Regions from separate parts of the Homo sapiens genome. Here all the other regions are reported to be linked to region 3. The links are microRNA targets in miRTarBase. Many come from high-throughput screens and were not tested one by one. Region 3 holds a microRNA gene; each other region holds the end of a gene's coding sequence.
Evidence for each region. Region 3 holds the annotated microRNA hsa-miR-513b-3p (AAAUGUCACCUUUUUGAGAGGA, at 2,887-2,908, opposite strand). A microRNA usually pairs through its seed, bases 2 to 8, with sites in the 3' UTR of a target mRNA and lowers its output. Matches are read on the target gene's strand: a 7mer-m8 pairs with bases 2 to 8, a 7mer-A1 pairs with bases 2 to 7 and ends in A, and an 8mer does both.

Region 1: the mRNA of RCAN2 is a reported target of hsa-miR-513b-3p. Seed matches in the 3' UTR shown: 7mer-m8 at 2,337-2,343.
Region 2: miRTarBase lists PLGRKT as a target of hsa-miR-513b-3p. The part of its 3' UTR that is shown has no 7-base or 8-base seed match.
Region 4: the mRNA of JMJD1C is a reported target of hsa-miR-513b-3p. The part of its 3' UTR that is shown has no 7-base or 8-base seed match.

The regions. Positions count from the first base shown.
Region 1 is chr6:46,219,504-46,223,503 of GRCh38, reverse strand. It overlaps RCAN2 (regulator of calcineurin 2), which reads left to right. Exons shown (of 5, transcript NM_001251974.2): 5 at 203-2,768. The coding sequence ends at 363. All of the region lies in intron 1 of LOC105375079 (a long non-coding RNA gene), which reads right to left. Among named protein-coding and RNA genes, the nearest start is that of ENPP5, 51 kb to the right of the region's middle.
Region 2 is chr9:5,354,657-5,358,656 of GRCh38, reverse strand. PLGRKT (plasminogen receptor with a C-terminal lysine) reads left to right here. Exons shown (of 6, transcript NM_018465.4): 6 at 297-686. The coding sequence ends at 418. Among named protein-coding and RNA genes, the nearest start is that of RLN1, 17 kb to the right of the region's middle.
Region 3 is chrX:147,196,171-147,200,487 of GRCh38, forward strand. MIR513B (microRNA 513b) reads right to left here and starts at 2,957; the gene lies at 2,874-2,957. All of the region lies in intron 1 of LOC105373347 (periphilin-1), which reads left to right.
Region 4 is chr10:63,164,333-63,168,332 of GRCh38, reverse strand. It overlaps JMJD1C (jumonji domain containing 1C), which reads left to right. Exons shown (of 26, transcript NM_032776.3): 26 at 199-1,108. The coding sequence ends at 288. Among named protein-coding and RNA genes, the nearest start is that of NRBF2, 33 kb to the right of the region's middle.

The DNA of each region.
Region 1 (4,000 bases), not on the chromosome of region 3:
TGCACAGTTGATAAGTGGCAGAGCCAGGATAGGAGGAAATTGATCTCTTTCCACTTGCCAACACCCTGTGCCATCCCTGCATAAGATCACAGGCTTCCTGAGACCCTGGAAAATGCTCCTGTCATTTCCTAAGCAGACCCTGCTCCAGGATCTCTTTTGAAATCCCCCCCTCTTTCTCACTTCCATTTTTCTTGCTTTTCAGGAGAGAAGTATGAGCTCCATGCAGGGACTGAGTCCACCCCAAGTGTCGTCGTGCACGTGTGCGACAGTGACATAGAGGAAGAAGAGGACCCAAAGACTTCCCCAAAGCCAAAAATCATCCAAACTCGGCGTCCTGGCCTGCCACCCTCCGTGTCCAACTGAGCTGCCTGCTCCTTCTCGATAATAGCCGTCTCCTCTTTATCATGCTTTTTCCCCCTGTTGTTTGTCAAAAAAAATTGCCTTTAAATTCCTGGGTGTTTGGTTGTTTGAGATTCCTTCCTTGTTATCAAGCCTCTCGGACAAAAGGGCTAGGAAAAGGTGATATGTCTCCTGATCATATCATACCCATTAAGTATAACCCATTATTTAGAAGGTTCTAGGGAAAAAAGTAGTATTTTCTTATTAAACAATCAGCACAGCCTATATCTTTGTTCTCTCATGTTGATCCAAGCCAGAGACATCAGTAACAAATAGCACCTGTGTTGTTTGTGAGCTGTTTCAGTCCCAGTCCTGATGTGTGTGCGTTGTTCTCTCCTGGCCACTTAAATAGGACCATATGTAAACTTGACTTTGACTGCATGAGATATCCCTATCTGGTCTCACTCAGTCCTCTGCATCCCAACATTCCCAGGACATGCATGATCACCAGCATTTATTTTCATTATTTGAGGATATCTTATAACTCACAGATTGTCAGCATCCAGCCATGTCCTATCTAGATTAGGAAAATGATCAGAATATTCCAGCTCAACAAGTCTGGGTATATTCACTATTGTGAGTCAATACACCATAGCTCTGTTGAAATTCCTGGAGGCAAAATTGACCTTGGCCCCAAAGATATTCCTCAATAGATTTCAAACACCACTCCCCTGTAGAACTCTCCCAGCCTCGTTGGGGAGGCTTGTCCAGGGTGATAGAGACTGATTTCAGACAAACCTATTTATTACAAAAGTTTCATGGTGTCTGAATGATTGTTTTCTCTCTTTGTATATTTGTACAAATGTTTCAGCTGTGCTTTTAAAAAATCTGGATGTTTTTTATTTAGTGATTGTTCGACAATTAGCTGCTTCAAAACATAATGTGCATTGCTTATGAATGCCTTCATATACTAATACAGATACTCTGATAATATTACACTCTAATAAGGATAATGCTGAATTTTGAAAGGACACAAAACATCTAATGCCAATATATACATGATTAGCCAACATCTTTGCTATCAAGACCACTTGTTTTTAAATAAAGATGCAAGTGTCAGTTGTAGATTATTGGGATGAAGCTAAATCCCCAGAATGCAGCAGCAGCTGAGCATGTTAAAATGGGGAAGGATGATAGCTACATGTATGCCGGTCCTACTCACGCGACACCCGTGTGCTCAAAAAAGTTATTTGTTTTTGTTACGTGTGATTTTTCTATTTCTCTAGCCCAAAGTGCATTACAGAAGATACACCTATAGAACCATTACCTTCTGCTATGTGTGCCAGGCCTCATCTACTCCTGTACATTAATGAATTACTTTAGATGCAAACGCAGATTACAATGGAGTGGGGAAGTACTTTCATTACCCAAGCCTCAGAAAAACACACAAGAACAATAACACAGCAAACAGATTGAGGGATTGTTGTGGTTTTTGACTAAGGTGTATGTTAGTTTCATCAGAAACTTAAAACATAGACTGATCACTCAGAAATTAAAGTCCGTTTTACTGTGAATATAGCAATATAGTACTGGACACAGTACTGGTGAAACTGAGGAGAGCATTGCTTGTAAAATCCTGAGTTTCCATAAGGAAAATGAAAACTCCTTTTAAAAATAAAATCTGAGGAGTGTACAATAAGCATATGCTTTGACTTTCCTTTGCTGTGGAGGTTTTTGGTTTTTCATTGATGATAAACGACTACAGACTTAGTAGTGGAGAAATGGTGTCCTCTAGTGGAAGAAATAGTAGGCTCCGCTATTCAGATGCAGAGCACTGCAGCATCCAGCCTTTCAAAGCTGACTCTTCTCAATCATCTGTGGGTCATTTGACTTGATTTTTTAAGCTACCCTGAATTTCCAGAATGCAGGTTCTAAAGAAATCTAGATGAGAGAAAGTATTTGAAAATGATTTTTAAATGTTTTTTAAAAGACACATCTGACATTTTTAACAACTTAGTAAAAGTTGAAATGACCATTCTGTGTAGTCATAAAAGAAACACAATGAAGTGTATGGCCTCTGGAGTTAGTCTTAGTAAAACTTATTGCTCTGTGTCAATGTTAACCTGTCTCAGATCAAGTAATTCTTTCACTAGGTTGGGTTTGGGGAGGGGGGAAAAGAGGGGCTTTTCCTAGGAGAACGATAAGAAATGGAAAGACTCCTTGAAGTGTTGCAAGGGAACCTCCTAGCACTGTGAAAGTCAGAATCGCCTCAGCATTTCCATGACGCACATTATGCAAATCTCTTTAGCACTATTTTAAGTTTGAAAACTTTAACAATGAAGGGGAAGGGGAAGATTTCCACCAACTGAATCATTTGTGCACGTGTATAGCTCAAAGAGCTTAGACTTCAAATATATCTGGTGAATGACTCTTTGTCCATGTGGTTTAATTTCTGTGTTGTCGACCTGAGTTGAATATTCTTGAGGGGTAATTGTGGGGGACTGCATTTCAACCTAGAGTTTTTCTAAGAAGTCCCCAACGTATGGGGTTAACCCATATACCTAGGCTCTTCCTGAAAGTGGGGGAAGCTGGTTGGCAGCCCTCTCTTGGGGGAAGGGGAATTTGAGCAGGGCCTGGAGGGCAGGGTTGGCCTCTGATAAGAGGAACTGGGAGAGCTCCCTGTTTTATTGCCATGTTTCAACATCTTGGTCCTAAAAGCCATTTCAAGTGTACTAAAAACCTCTTTTAATGTCTTCCCACTCTATTCTCTTGTTAAAAGCACTATAAGAGACCTGAGTTAGCAAAAAAATTATTATTCAGGAGAAAAGCACTATCATAATCTAAATGATTAATACATTAAATGCCATTAAAATGAAGAGCTTCTGTTCATCAGATGGGTATTAGGAGAATGAAAAGGGACAGCATCAGACTGGAAAAGGATATTTGAGACACATGTAGTTGTAAAATAAATTATATCCAAAATGTAAAAAGAAAACCCTACAAATAAGGAAAACAGACAATCCATTTCTTTGATCATCAAAAAATTTCAAAGGCACTTCATACAGGCAATTCACATACACACAGACATACACAAAATACCCAGATGACCCATTAGCATTCAAAAGATGCTCAATTTTATTGCTTATCTGACAAAAGCAAATGATAATCTCAGAGCTACTACACAGATCTATCAGAATGACTAAAATTAAGTCTGGAGAAATAAAAAGTTCTGGTAAGGATATGAAGGAAGGGGAACTGTCATGCACCACTGGTGGAGTGTCAACTGGTGCTCACTTCACAGCACTGTTTGGTAATATCTGCTAAAGCTAACATGCCTCTGGGAGCAATTCACTCCAGGGCATGCACCTAGCAGATACAAGTGCACACATCTATCAAAATACTTGTACAATAATGTCCCTAGCAAAGTTGTTCATCATAGCCATTAACTGGATACAGCCCAAATGTCCTTCAACTATAGAATAAACTGTGCTATCCTCACACAAAGGAATGTCACAAAGCAATAAGACACATAAACTAGTGGTACATATATGAACATGAATAGATCGCAAAATCATATTTTGAGCAAAAAAGAAAAACTAGACATGAAAAAAATACATAGTATATGACTCCTTTTAGCAAGCTAAGAAAGTCAAAACTGGCC
Region 2 (4,000 bases), not on the chromosome of region 3:
ATTAATACGAATCCTGACTTTGGTTCAAGGGAAAAAATTACTTATCTTGATGTTCTTTCTCTTCTACATGTCAAAAATACCATCTGTAGCTCCTGATTTATTTATGGGTGTTCAGAATTCATCACTGTGTTTCCTCTGGGAAGTATATTACTTCTCCTGAGGAAAATGTTTAAGTGTGAGATTGGGGACATGGCTCATACGGTGTTAGAGCCTGTCAAGGAATATAGCAATCAGGCTTTGTCACAAATTGCTGATGACCCCTTTGTCACCTTGTGTATTTCTGTACTTTATTTAAGGTGAAGCTGAGGACATACTGGAAACAGAAAAGAGTAAATTGCAGCTGCCAAGAGGAATGATCACTTTTGAAAGCATTGAAAAAGCCAGAAAGGAACAGAGTAGATTCTTCATAGACAAATGAAATCATGCTTACCAATCAAATCTCAAAGCACAGAATTATTGACTTGAATCATGGTTTTTACAGTTTTTTAAATGCTCAAGATTTTGATATTATAGATTTTATTTTAAAATATTAAAATGCAAGATAGTTTTGAGCTATTTTAAAATAAAATTTATAACATTCAACACAAAATCATGGAGGTGCTCTAAATAACTTTTAGATTTCCTCTCTCTGTGTGCATTACCAATATCTAAGTGTAAAATTAATAAATTGTTTTGAATTCCTGGAAGCAAATGCCCAGCTGCTCTCATTTCTCTGTCACACATACTTTCCATACCACATTCCATTTCCACAGATGCTTCTGTATTTTGGATTTGTCAATTGTGTCCTGCCCCTACATGACAGAAAACAGTATTGTTTGACTAACATATATACTGCATTTTCTATGACTGGCACTGTTCTGAGTGTTTTGTACAAATTCTTGTAATCATCCCAATAATTTTATGAAGCAGGAATCATTTTATAAATGTGGAAACTGAAGCACAGATAAGCAGCTTGAACAAAGGCAGAAGCACGCAAGCCAAATCCAAGAAGTTGCTGCAGGTCATCCAATTTGGCTGGGCCAAAGCCATACTTGGCCAGGGCTTGGATTTGAACAAGTGTGGCTCCAGTGGCTGTGCTCTAAAAGGCCTTGACAAGGCCTTAACTGATGCTTAACCTGCAAAGAAAAGCTATAAAAGGGAAAAGGTAACAACATTCAAATAATGACTCAGGGCATAGTTGCTAGAGAGGTGGAAACAAGAGAGAGGTAGATTTGGATGACTGCCTTTTTATTTAGACTCACTGGGAAAACTCCTCATAAAATACTCCTATATATAAGTATTTCTTCAGATGCGAACCCTACATATAATATGCTCATTCCAAAGAGATTTATTGATACTACTTTGTGCCAGGCACTGTTGTAGACACTAGAGCTACATCGGTGAATAAGTAGACAATGTCCTATATCCTGGGCAGAGGAATATATTCTAGTGAGGGGTGGGATAATTGGGGCGGGCAACAAATTAACATCAAGATAAATAAGATCATTTCTAATCCTGGCAAATGCTTCAGTGGAAATGAAACAGAGTGATAAGAGAATGATTGGGTTAATGAGGTGGTGCTACTTTAGATCGGTACTGCAGACACTGCCTCTTTGCAGAGGTGACATTTGAACTGAGACATGGCATGGCCAAATAATAGAAAGAAGCCCAGGAAGAATAATAGGAGATTAAATATTAAGGTAGGAACAAGCATGAATATGATGTGGTCCCTACCTTCAAGGAGCTGACAACGTATCAACATGTGTTTTGTTACAATTTTAGCTTTAGAGAAACTTGAGCCAAGTCTTGAAGGATGCATAGAAGTTCTCCATGAAGGTAAACATTGAAGAGGAAGGGTGCCCCAAGCAGGAGAAGCAGCTTGAACAAAGGCAGGACCGTGCAAGCCAAATCCAAGGAATTGCTGCAGGTCATTCAATTTGGCTGCAGCAAGGGGTTCCTCATGTGGGAGACTTTTTCAGAAATGATCCTGGTGGAAGTACAATTCAATTCCTGAAGAGCCTTGGATGTAACAGCAAGCAGTTTGGACTCTTTCCTGAGGGTGATAGCAGTGAAAGAATGCAAAACGGGATTTTTACCCAAATTTGTAGATTAGAGGGGAAAGATCCCAGATCCCAAGTAATGAGGAGCTGCAATGATCCATCTGAGTGCTGACCAGTGGCCTGAATTAAGGCTACAGCCTTGGGAATGGACTCAAGATTATGAAAATAGAGAATAGCAGTACCAGGAAACCAGTTTGAGGTCACAGAGTGGGAGTTGTTTTCCCTGCATTTTTAATCTGTGTGGATTATCTAAGGCCCCTAGAGAACATGGGAAAGAAGAAGTACTGGGAGGAACACTGGTGGACTCATGAATGCCCAAGACCTAGTGCTGGTTGTAGGTCACACCAGAATCTGGAATTGTATTTCTTTCCCCACAATTCAATCATGCTATTCAAATGTTCCTGATATAGTCTAGCCAGAGCTCACCAAGAGTAGGTTTGATGCCTCTGCAAAGGCTGATCGGCTCAAGACCTTATCTGGGATTTTCATTGCTGGCAACATAGCCAGGCCCTGGGCCCCCTTAAGAACACCAGGCTGTTCAATTGTATTGGCTTCTTGGCTTCTTCCTCTGGCACTGACACTGAGTTTATTAATAATTCTACCTCAGTAGAGGCCCTGCTGAAAAACATACGCACACACTTACACTCATACTGTTGTTTGCTCCCAATTGTATAGTGAGGCAAAAATCAAAGTGGAGCTATTAAAAATGACCATGCAGCACAAGTATGTTGTAACATTTTTCAGTGTTATAACTGCTGATTATCCAAAGCTTTTCCTCTCATTATTACATTGTCCTTTTGTTGAAAGGAAAAACATTTCTGCTGTGATGCTTCTGAGCTATTTCTTCATTTATATTAATTAAATATTTATTTATGCTTATGATTAATCCCTAATTACCAACTAGACATCTGATGTTTCCAAATACTGAAACTTATATGGTCTTCTATAAGAAACTAGCTTATAATCATCACAAACTTTTGTGATATTGCAAGAAGAATGAGGAAATAAATATGAGAAAGTATATTAGGAGAAGGATAAGAAACAGGTTTCATTATGAACAAAGATTTAGAGATTAAAATAATGATAACCTCACTCAATCTCTTTGTCAATTATTAGGAATAAAGTTGGAGGAAAACTTATCTACACTCCATGTGGTTCTGTTCTTCCCAAGACATTCTTGGCTCAGCCAAAGCAATGCAGAGACTGCTAAGTATATGTGGAGTCTGTCATAGTTAAGGGATATAAATATGGATCCAGAGATTCTCTGCAACAGAAAGACTGTTCTTGACAATCACTGTATAATAGTAAAAATGCAGTTTATAACATTGCGTTACCTAAGTGTTTTGAATGTTTCTTATTCACATTTACATGAGAGAATTGTTCTCCCAGTTAAACAAAAATAACATATCAGGGTCTGAAATTTACAAATAAATCAAGTTTATATGGTGTTCAACCAATCTGAATTTGTGTTTATGGGTAATGTTGAAGGTTCCTTTATGGTGTGGTACTCATTGCACTTTGGAAAGGCTGTGAGAAAGTTCCCATAAGCCGAAGTTGTTTTAATGACAAATAGTGAAGTTATGATCAAGGATTTTAAAGAAGGGAAGACACTTAGAAATAGTCTAGTCTAAGCCCTCACCTTACACTTGAAAAAATTGAGGCCCTTTGTGATTGACCTAAAGTTTTATATCTAGTAATGGTAGTTACACTAAAACCTTTGTATTTGGTATCCCTGGCAGGATTCTTTTCAATACAACATGCTGCCTGATCAAGAAAAAATAGTGTCAAAGTCAAAATCAAATATAATTAAAAAAATTATCACACACATTCAGTCTCAGAGCCATATGAAGTGTCCTAGGGTGGGGTTAGAAGGGCATTGGTTAGAAGAGAAGTGAGAAGGAATAGACACAGATTGCAAAAATAATCTATGACCAATGTAACCTAAATATAAGCCATCTGAA
Region 3 (4,317 bases):
AAATTACATATATTTTTAGTATTCTGTAGATTGCCTTTTTATTATCTCAGTGGTCTGATTTGAAGACAAATTTTAATTTTTTCAAAGTCTATTTTATCAACTTATTTTTAATTTTACTTTTATATTTTGATATCATATATAATAATTGATAGGATGCCTATGGTATATTATCGGGGGAAAAAAGTTACTGAAAGGTAAAGAAGATTAAAAATAAATATCTATATAAATAAAAAAATATATATATATTCTGCCTTTTATTCATAAAATTTTATACTTGGACATTTTGGCCTAAAATTGTGTTATTTTCCGTATATGGTTTGAAATATGGATCGAGGTTCATATTTTTCATATATATATATATATATATCACATTTTCCAGTATCTTGTTTAAATACTATCATTTCTTCATTAGACTGACTTTACAGCTTAGTCTAAATGAATTGGTGACATATATGTATATTTCTGGTCCTTCTATTTGTCCATCCTTTCTTCAGTACCACACTATATTGGCTAATCTAGTTAGACAGTAAATCTGGAAATTACAAGTGTAAATTCTCCAACTTTGTGATTCTCTTTCAGACTCTTTTGGATATTCTAGTTTATTTGCCTTTTATATCAGTTTTAGAATCATCATGGTAATGTCTACAAATATTTTTCTGCGACATTGGTTGGAATTGCATTACCTCTAGAGATCAATAGAACTCTATAAGTCTATAGATTTGAATCCTTCGATCCATAAATATGATACTCCTCTCCACTTAATTAGGAATTATTTGATTTCCTAGTGTATTTACACTTTTAGCATACAGATGTGTTTGGTTTTCTATTGATACTGAATCAAATTGCCACAAATTTAGTTGTTTCCAACAACACAAATTTATTATATTAGGGTCTAAAGGTCAGAAATCTAAATTAGGTTTCTCTTGGCTAAAATGAAGGCATTGGCAGGGCTTTGTTCCTTCTGTTGGCTCTAGAGGAGAATCTACTTGATTGTCTTTAGAAGAAGATGCTACTTGCTTTCTCCGTTCTTTGGCTCATGGACTTTACCTCCACCTCTAGTCAATACTATAGCCTTTTCCAATGTTTCTCTTATTCTAACCGCCTTTCTCCTACTTATAAGGACCCTTGTGATAATGTTGGGCTCACCTAGATAATCTAGGATAATCCCAATCTCAAAATATTTAATTTAATCACATGCACAAATTTTCTTCTGCAATAAAATGTGTTGTTTACAAGTTCAGGGGTTACTCTGTAAACATTGTTTTGAGGGGGCTGTTATTCTGCCTACCACAGAGATCTTGTAATTTTTTTCTTAGAATTTCACCTAAATATTTTATGTTCATATTATTTTATTTTTCAATTAGCTTGATTTAATCATTTCCTAATGTACACATATATCAAAACATCATGGTGTATACCTTAAATATATACAACTTTTATGTCAGTTAAACCTTAATAAATTGGTAGAAACATGGATGAATAATACAAAACAGAATTTCTCTGAAAGAAAACATAAATACCAGTGAATATACTATTCTTTTTGAGTAAATCATAAAAGAGATACGATAACAACTAAATTTTCTTACTTTCATTTTAGGATATCACTTAAAGTTATATAAGTAACATGCTTTCACTATAATACAGTTTTAGAAACTATATACTAAGAGGAGTTATCACTTTGGAAAATTCTACGTACATACAGTATTTCAAACTGACAGAATTTTTTTACTGTTCAGAATGTTCCCCCCGACCCACACACACATACAAAGATTCTTTGTATTCTATTAGTGCAATTGTTTCATTATGGAAAAGATACATCAACAGATTTTTTTTTTTACTTTCAGTTACTAATGGTCTTACACATATTCATCCATTCTGAATCTAAAAAAAAAAACATAAACTAAAATCCTCCCTGTAACCATATAGTAATTTTTTAACAGTTTTTCCCTTTCAGTGTATATGCTGTAGCCTCTATTTCAGTTGGAATCAAAATTGTATTAATCACTTACTATTTCTAAAACATTTTTTACACATTTCCACAATATAAGTAGCTTATTTATAACCTACTTCCCAAACATGCATACTGGTTTCATGCTGCAGAAGGCATCACACAGTCTGGCGCTTGTCTCTCTCTCTCCCTCTCCCTCCTTTTCTCTCTCTCTCTCTGTGTGTGTGTGTGTGTGTGTGTGTATTTATTTCCCTCTCTCTCTCTCTCCATTGGGTTAAAAGTTAAGAAGTGTCACCAGAAGAAAATGGAGAGAGAAGCCTGGGAGACATCTCCTGAGTATCAGTTCTGTCACACCCTTTCATTCTTCAAGTGTATTCTTAAAAAATGGGGAAAAAGATAATGAAAAAGAATGAAATATTCTTGGATGGACTATGCTTAACCCATTGTAAACTGGTGACATATAGCTTTGAAAGGTAATTTAAAAGTCAATGAAAAACATTTTAGTCTTTGAGAGACAAATGGACACTGTGGATCAACAATGAAGGGACCTGAGAGGCAGGAGAGTCTTTTGGGAGCTCTAAAGGAGAAGCCTTGCAAATGATGACTAGTTGACAAGAGAGAAAAGTTTAGAGAATTTAGGAATCTGGAGTACAACCTTCCAGCTGACGAAGAATGGCTGTGGCCTCTATACAATGTATTTCTTATTTGAGCCAAGCCTCATTTGGCAAAAATAGTTAAATTCTTAAAGAACTTGAGTGCATGCGTTTTCTCAGGAGTCCACAGTTCCTATGTCTAGTCGTCTAGAAGGCACAAAAAGTTCCTTGAAGTAGCCCAGCACTGAGGAGTGGGTGCACAGGATCCAAAACAGGCATCACCATGCTCGCAGCTACAGCCCCATCCCTAGGGACACCACATATGCAGTGCATGCTGTACATTACTCCTCTCAAAAAGGTGACATTTATATTTTAGTTCACATAAATGACACCTCCTTGTGAAAGGCACTGTACACTGAATGGCTGAATGTGGCATCCCAGACCAAATGCTCCCTATTCATGCCATTTTTATTCAAGTCCCTATATAGGTGTATACATTAGCATGGCCACCAAGATTTATGCCAAGGAATTATGCAAATCCTAGCCCCCAGTGCTCCCCTTTCATCCTGCCCTGAGTGAGATTTTAACATGCAGATTTTTGTTTTATTTTGTTATAATCCCAGCCACCCAGGAGCTGAGGCAGGAGTACACCTTGACCCTGGGAGTCAGGTTTCAGTGAGAGGAGATCAGGCCACTATACTCAAGCCTGGGTTACAGAGTGAGACCCTGTCTCAAAACAAAAACAAAATGTAATAGAAAAAAAAAAAAAAAAAAAAACATAAAATTACTGGTTAAGTAGAAAGGACCAACCACTCACCAAAGCTTTCTGTTGTCCTAAACTCCAGCTGTGCTGCACACACCTAAAGTCCATCAGAAAAACCACAGAATACAACAACCTGGATGCAAAGAAGTGGAGAAGAGTCAGAGGGTAACAGGTTGGAGAGAGTAGAAATTTCATTTCTTCTTCAGGCTATGGAGCAGGAAGAACCCATAGAAATTAATACAAGATACACACAAGACAGATAATGGGCTGGAAGACAGGAAATGCTATTTTATTTCTCTTAGCTCCATGGTTCTTTATAGTTCATTTATTTGAGTGCCTGCTCACTCGCTCTGTGTGTGTGTGTGTGTGTGTGTGTGTGTTATTAAATAGTAATAGCTGTAAGATTTTTAGTTCTAAGATTCTTTGCATTAATATATTTTCCATCCTTTTACTTTTACCCAACTTTCACGTAGGTCTTCATATTTAAAATGGCTTTGTTTTAGAAAGTATATAGTTGTTTCTTATTTTTATATAAATTGACAATCTCTGTCTTAATAGAAGCATTTATATCATTTATATTAATACAATTATTTACATACATGCATTTAAATCTACTGGCTTTCTGATTGTTTTCTATGTTTCATCCTTTTCTTATTCCAAATTTTCCTCTTTTCTGCCTGATGGTGGATTTAGTATTTTTAGCATTCAGTTATATTTTCTCTACTCTTGGCGTATTAGTTAGGTCACTTTAAAAAATATAGTGGTTGCTCTAGGGTTTACAAAGTTCATATTTAATTCATCACAGTCTATCTTCAAAGAATATTATACTACTTTTTGGCTGAATAGGAACAGCTCCAGTCTGCAGCTCCCAGTGTGATCAATGCAGAAGACGGGTGATTTCTGCATTTCCAACTGAGGTACCTGGTTCATCTCATTGGGACTGGTTGGACAGTGGCTGCAGCCAATGGAGGGTGAGCTGAAGCAGGGTGGGGTGTCGCCTTACCCGGGAAACA
Region 4 (4,000 bases), not on the chromosome of region 3:
AGGGTGACAACCAAAGATTAACACCAACATGTATTTAATTGTATGATTTATAGTGTCCCTTTTGGCTTAACACTTTCAAACATTTTTCTTATATTTGGCTTTCCTAGTTCCCTATTATTTTTTTAAATCTGGAAGTTGTCATTTTTTAATTAATTTCTGTCGAACTGAAGTGATTAGAAATATCAACATCTCTTTCAGGTTAAAAATATTTTGTATCATGCAGTCAAAGAAATGGTGAGAGCCTTGAAGATACACGAGGATGAAGTAGAGGATATGGAAGAAAATTAAGTGTGATCCAGTTTGATATTTTTAGGTTGTTGAACTGGGATTACTTAACCTTGAATGATGATATGTATGCACACTGACTTTAAGCTTCATAAAACCATCAGTGCCAAGAAATTCTCTTTGTAGTAATTACTTGTTACTGACACCACAGCAGTATAGCATATGTCACAGCTCCTGTGATTCAATGTTATAAAACAAGCAGAATTTTAAAAGCAGCACTATATAGCTGTTTTGTATTATAGTGTATATGATGTTTGTGAAAATGCCAGATTTAAAATGATGTATTTATTTTTGGTAAAAAATAAAAAATTCTATGCTATATTGTTGATCAAGTGTAAATGTGACCTTGTACAGTTTACTAAAATTACTGATATTTTTCACTACATTGAGACAGTTACTGTGAGAATAGGACACAAACACCAGCTATTGCCTGCATCTGGGAAATTGCTGAATCGCACAGCAGTCATGTCATAATCAGAAAATTACTGCCAAATAATTGTAAAATTTGTAAAGTATAAAGTATATAAAGTAGATACTAAATACAGACACTTCAATATTTTGTTGAAGCTATTGACTGTACAATTAAACATTTTCAAAAGGTGTAATTTATTTAAAATTGTCTCATTTTGGTAAAATTTATGTGAACTTTTAAAGCTAAATATTAAACTTAATATGCTATGTAAATATATACATATATACATTTAATGATGTATTTTTTTAAAACATTGGCTTGCTTTTGTTAAAGTGCAAGTGTTACATATGGCTTTGTACATTAAAGTTGAAAGGGGTTTTACATTTTCCATTAAAAGGACTTTATCAAAAATTGACTTTTTCCAGAGTACTCCCTCTGTTGACAAGCATGACACTGGGGGCAGAGAAGAGCCCGAAGTCAGTCATCCTGGGTATAAATATGAGTTCTGCCACTTACTGTATGACCTTAGAAAGTTATTTTAATTAATTTGAAGTCTTGGTTTTAATAGCTGGCTGCTATTGTCGGTTGGTTAAGGCTGACATATTCCCAACCCTTTAAGTTACTGGAAAGATGTAGCTCTCCACTGACACCTGCAGGATATTGAGAGGATAGCCTTTCTTCTCAACTGAAAGCATTCAGCTTAAAAGAAAAAAGTGGGAGTCCAAGTTGTGACACCTTGCAAGTTGCTTAGTTTATACTGTTTTTCCTTATGTCACCATCGTTTAGCTCCATGTAATCTGTTACAACACCCTCCACTTCAGGCAAGGTTCAGCCAGGAATGTGAGCAATTACATTTCATGTGAATTACCTACATGTGGCATTTCACATTAATTACCTATACTTATCATGGGATGGATAATGACTACTTGGCTAGAAAGAAAAATTGGCCTGAGGAATATTTCAGATGATTTTGTGAACCTTCTTTGGTGAGCTTTTGACTTTTTTAAATACCATTTTTCCAAATGTGCCTCAGCTGATAAAGTGGCTTTTGTCTAATGCTTTCATATGTTCCATCTGATTTAATTTTGATGTAAAATTAAGTGAAAGCCAAGGTGTTAATTCTGGAGTAGAGTACCACCTGCTGGTCCCCTAAAGCCTGCCAGGATCCCAAAGTCTGTGGTGATTGTTTTTCCTCAAAACCTTTTGCTTCTCTTGCTCTTGCATGAGCCACCTTTTAACCATATTTACAACTTATTCTGAATAGCTGAAGCTAACGAAGATAAAGCCAGGTAATGTGGCTTGTTTCAGTGCAAACCCACCTTAATGACAGTATTCTATCCGTAGTCTGAAGAATATTGTATCCATAGTCTGAATTCCATGCTGCTGACCTAATTAATTCCTTGTAAATCTGGGGTGAAGAGAGAGGACCATAATGCTTACATCCTTAATGACATTTGTAAGCTTTTTGGAAGGCTGGGGAGTTGATTGATTGCTGATTACTCCCTAATCACTGGAGCAGTTCCTCTGGCCTTTTTCTCTCCATCCTTTTGGTTGGGTCTGATGCGCCTCAGGAGTATGTCTGAGTATGTCAGCTCCCTCCAGACGGTGGTATGGTGTTATCTTAAATGTGTACAATAATTTGAGAAACAACAAAGAGCCTTTATAAAGGGAAAGTCGTGGTGAATACTTTACTTTAGTTCTTTCCCATTCTAGTGTATAATGTTTTTTGAGACACTCTCGCTCTGTTGCCCAGGCTGCAGTGCAGTGGTGCAATCATAGCTCACTGTAGCCTTGAACTCCTGGGCTCAGGTGATCCTCCTGCCTCAACCTCCCGAGTAGCTGGGACTATAGGCACGCATCACTGTGCTCAGCTAATTTTTTTTTCTTTTGGAGACTGAGTTTCACTCTGTCACCCAGGCTGGAGTGCAATGGCGTGATCTTGGCTCACTGCAACTTCCGCCTCCCAGGTTCAAGTGATTCTCCTGCCTCAGACTCCGGAGTAGCTGGGACTACAGGTGCATGCCACCACACTTGGCTAATTTTTCTATTTTTCATAGAGATGATGGGGTTTCACTACGTTGGCGAGGCTGGTCTCGAACTCCTTACCTGATGATCTGCCAGTCTCAGCCTCTCAAAGTGCTGGGATTAGAGGCGTGATTTTTAAAATGTTATTTATTTATTTATTTTATTTATTTATTTATTTATTTATTTAGAAGAGATGAGGTCTCTCTCACTACGTTACCAAGGCTGGTCTCTCCTGAGCTCAAGTGATCTTCCCACCTCAGCCTCCCAAAGTGCTGGGATTACAAGTGTAAGCCACCACACCTGGCCCTAATTGATAATGTTTTTACTGGAATATGGATTTTTCATGAATAATCAATACGTGCATTCAAATTCATTTCTGCCATGCATCTGGGGACTGTAATACCCAGACGAATCAGTGTCTGGTTTTCTGTCACTTCCCTTCTTGGTAGATGGGTTATGGATTTAATAACATCTGGGTAAAATTAATAAGCTTCAGAAAAGTGCTGTCATACCTTTACTTTGCTCTGTGCATGTATACCATAGATAGATTGATACAACATGTTCTGTTTCTAGATGCCAGCCTATTAAAGATGCTCTCACAAATGAGATCAGCAGTCAGCCATGGGAGAGGAAAAAGTGATTTAGTTATTCTATATAATGGTTTTTTTGTTTTTTGTTTTTGTTTTTGTTTTTGATACGGAGTTTGCTAATTTGCTGTTGTCATCCAGGCTGGAGTGCAGTGGCACCATCTCGGCTCCCTGCAACCTCTGCCTCCCAGATTCAAGTGATTCTCCTGCCTCAGCCTCCCAAGTAGGTGAAGTTACAGGCCCACACCACCATGCCCAGCTAATTTTTGTATTTTTAGTGGGGATAGGGTTTCACCATGTTGGCCAAGGCTGGTCTTGAACTCCTGACCTCAGGTGATCCGCCCACCTTGGCCATCCAGAGTGCTGGGATTACAAGCGTGGGACACCACGCCCAGCTAGTTATCATTCTGTATTCAATACAGTATTCAGTATGAATTGGGATAACAAGTTGGCCAAGACACAAGGTTATGTATGCTGCCAGGCCTGTCACCAGGATGCAGACTCAGACCTTTCCAACTGCAAAAGTTATGACATGGCCTGGTTATGCAATTACTATGTAAACCTAGATAGATATGCTTTGAAACCGTATAAAAATATAGCAAATGTGAGTAGTATGTGAAGTACTTTGGCTCCCACAGTAATCAGCCTGGTTCTTTTAATGACAATTAATTGACTTTTAAGTGACAATGAA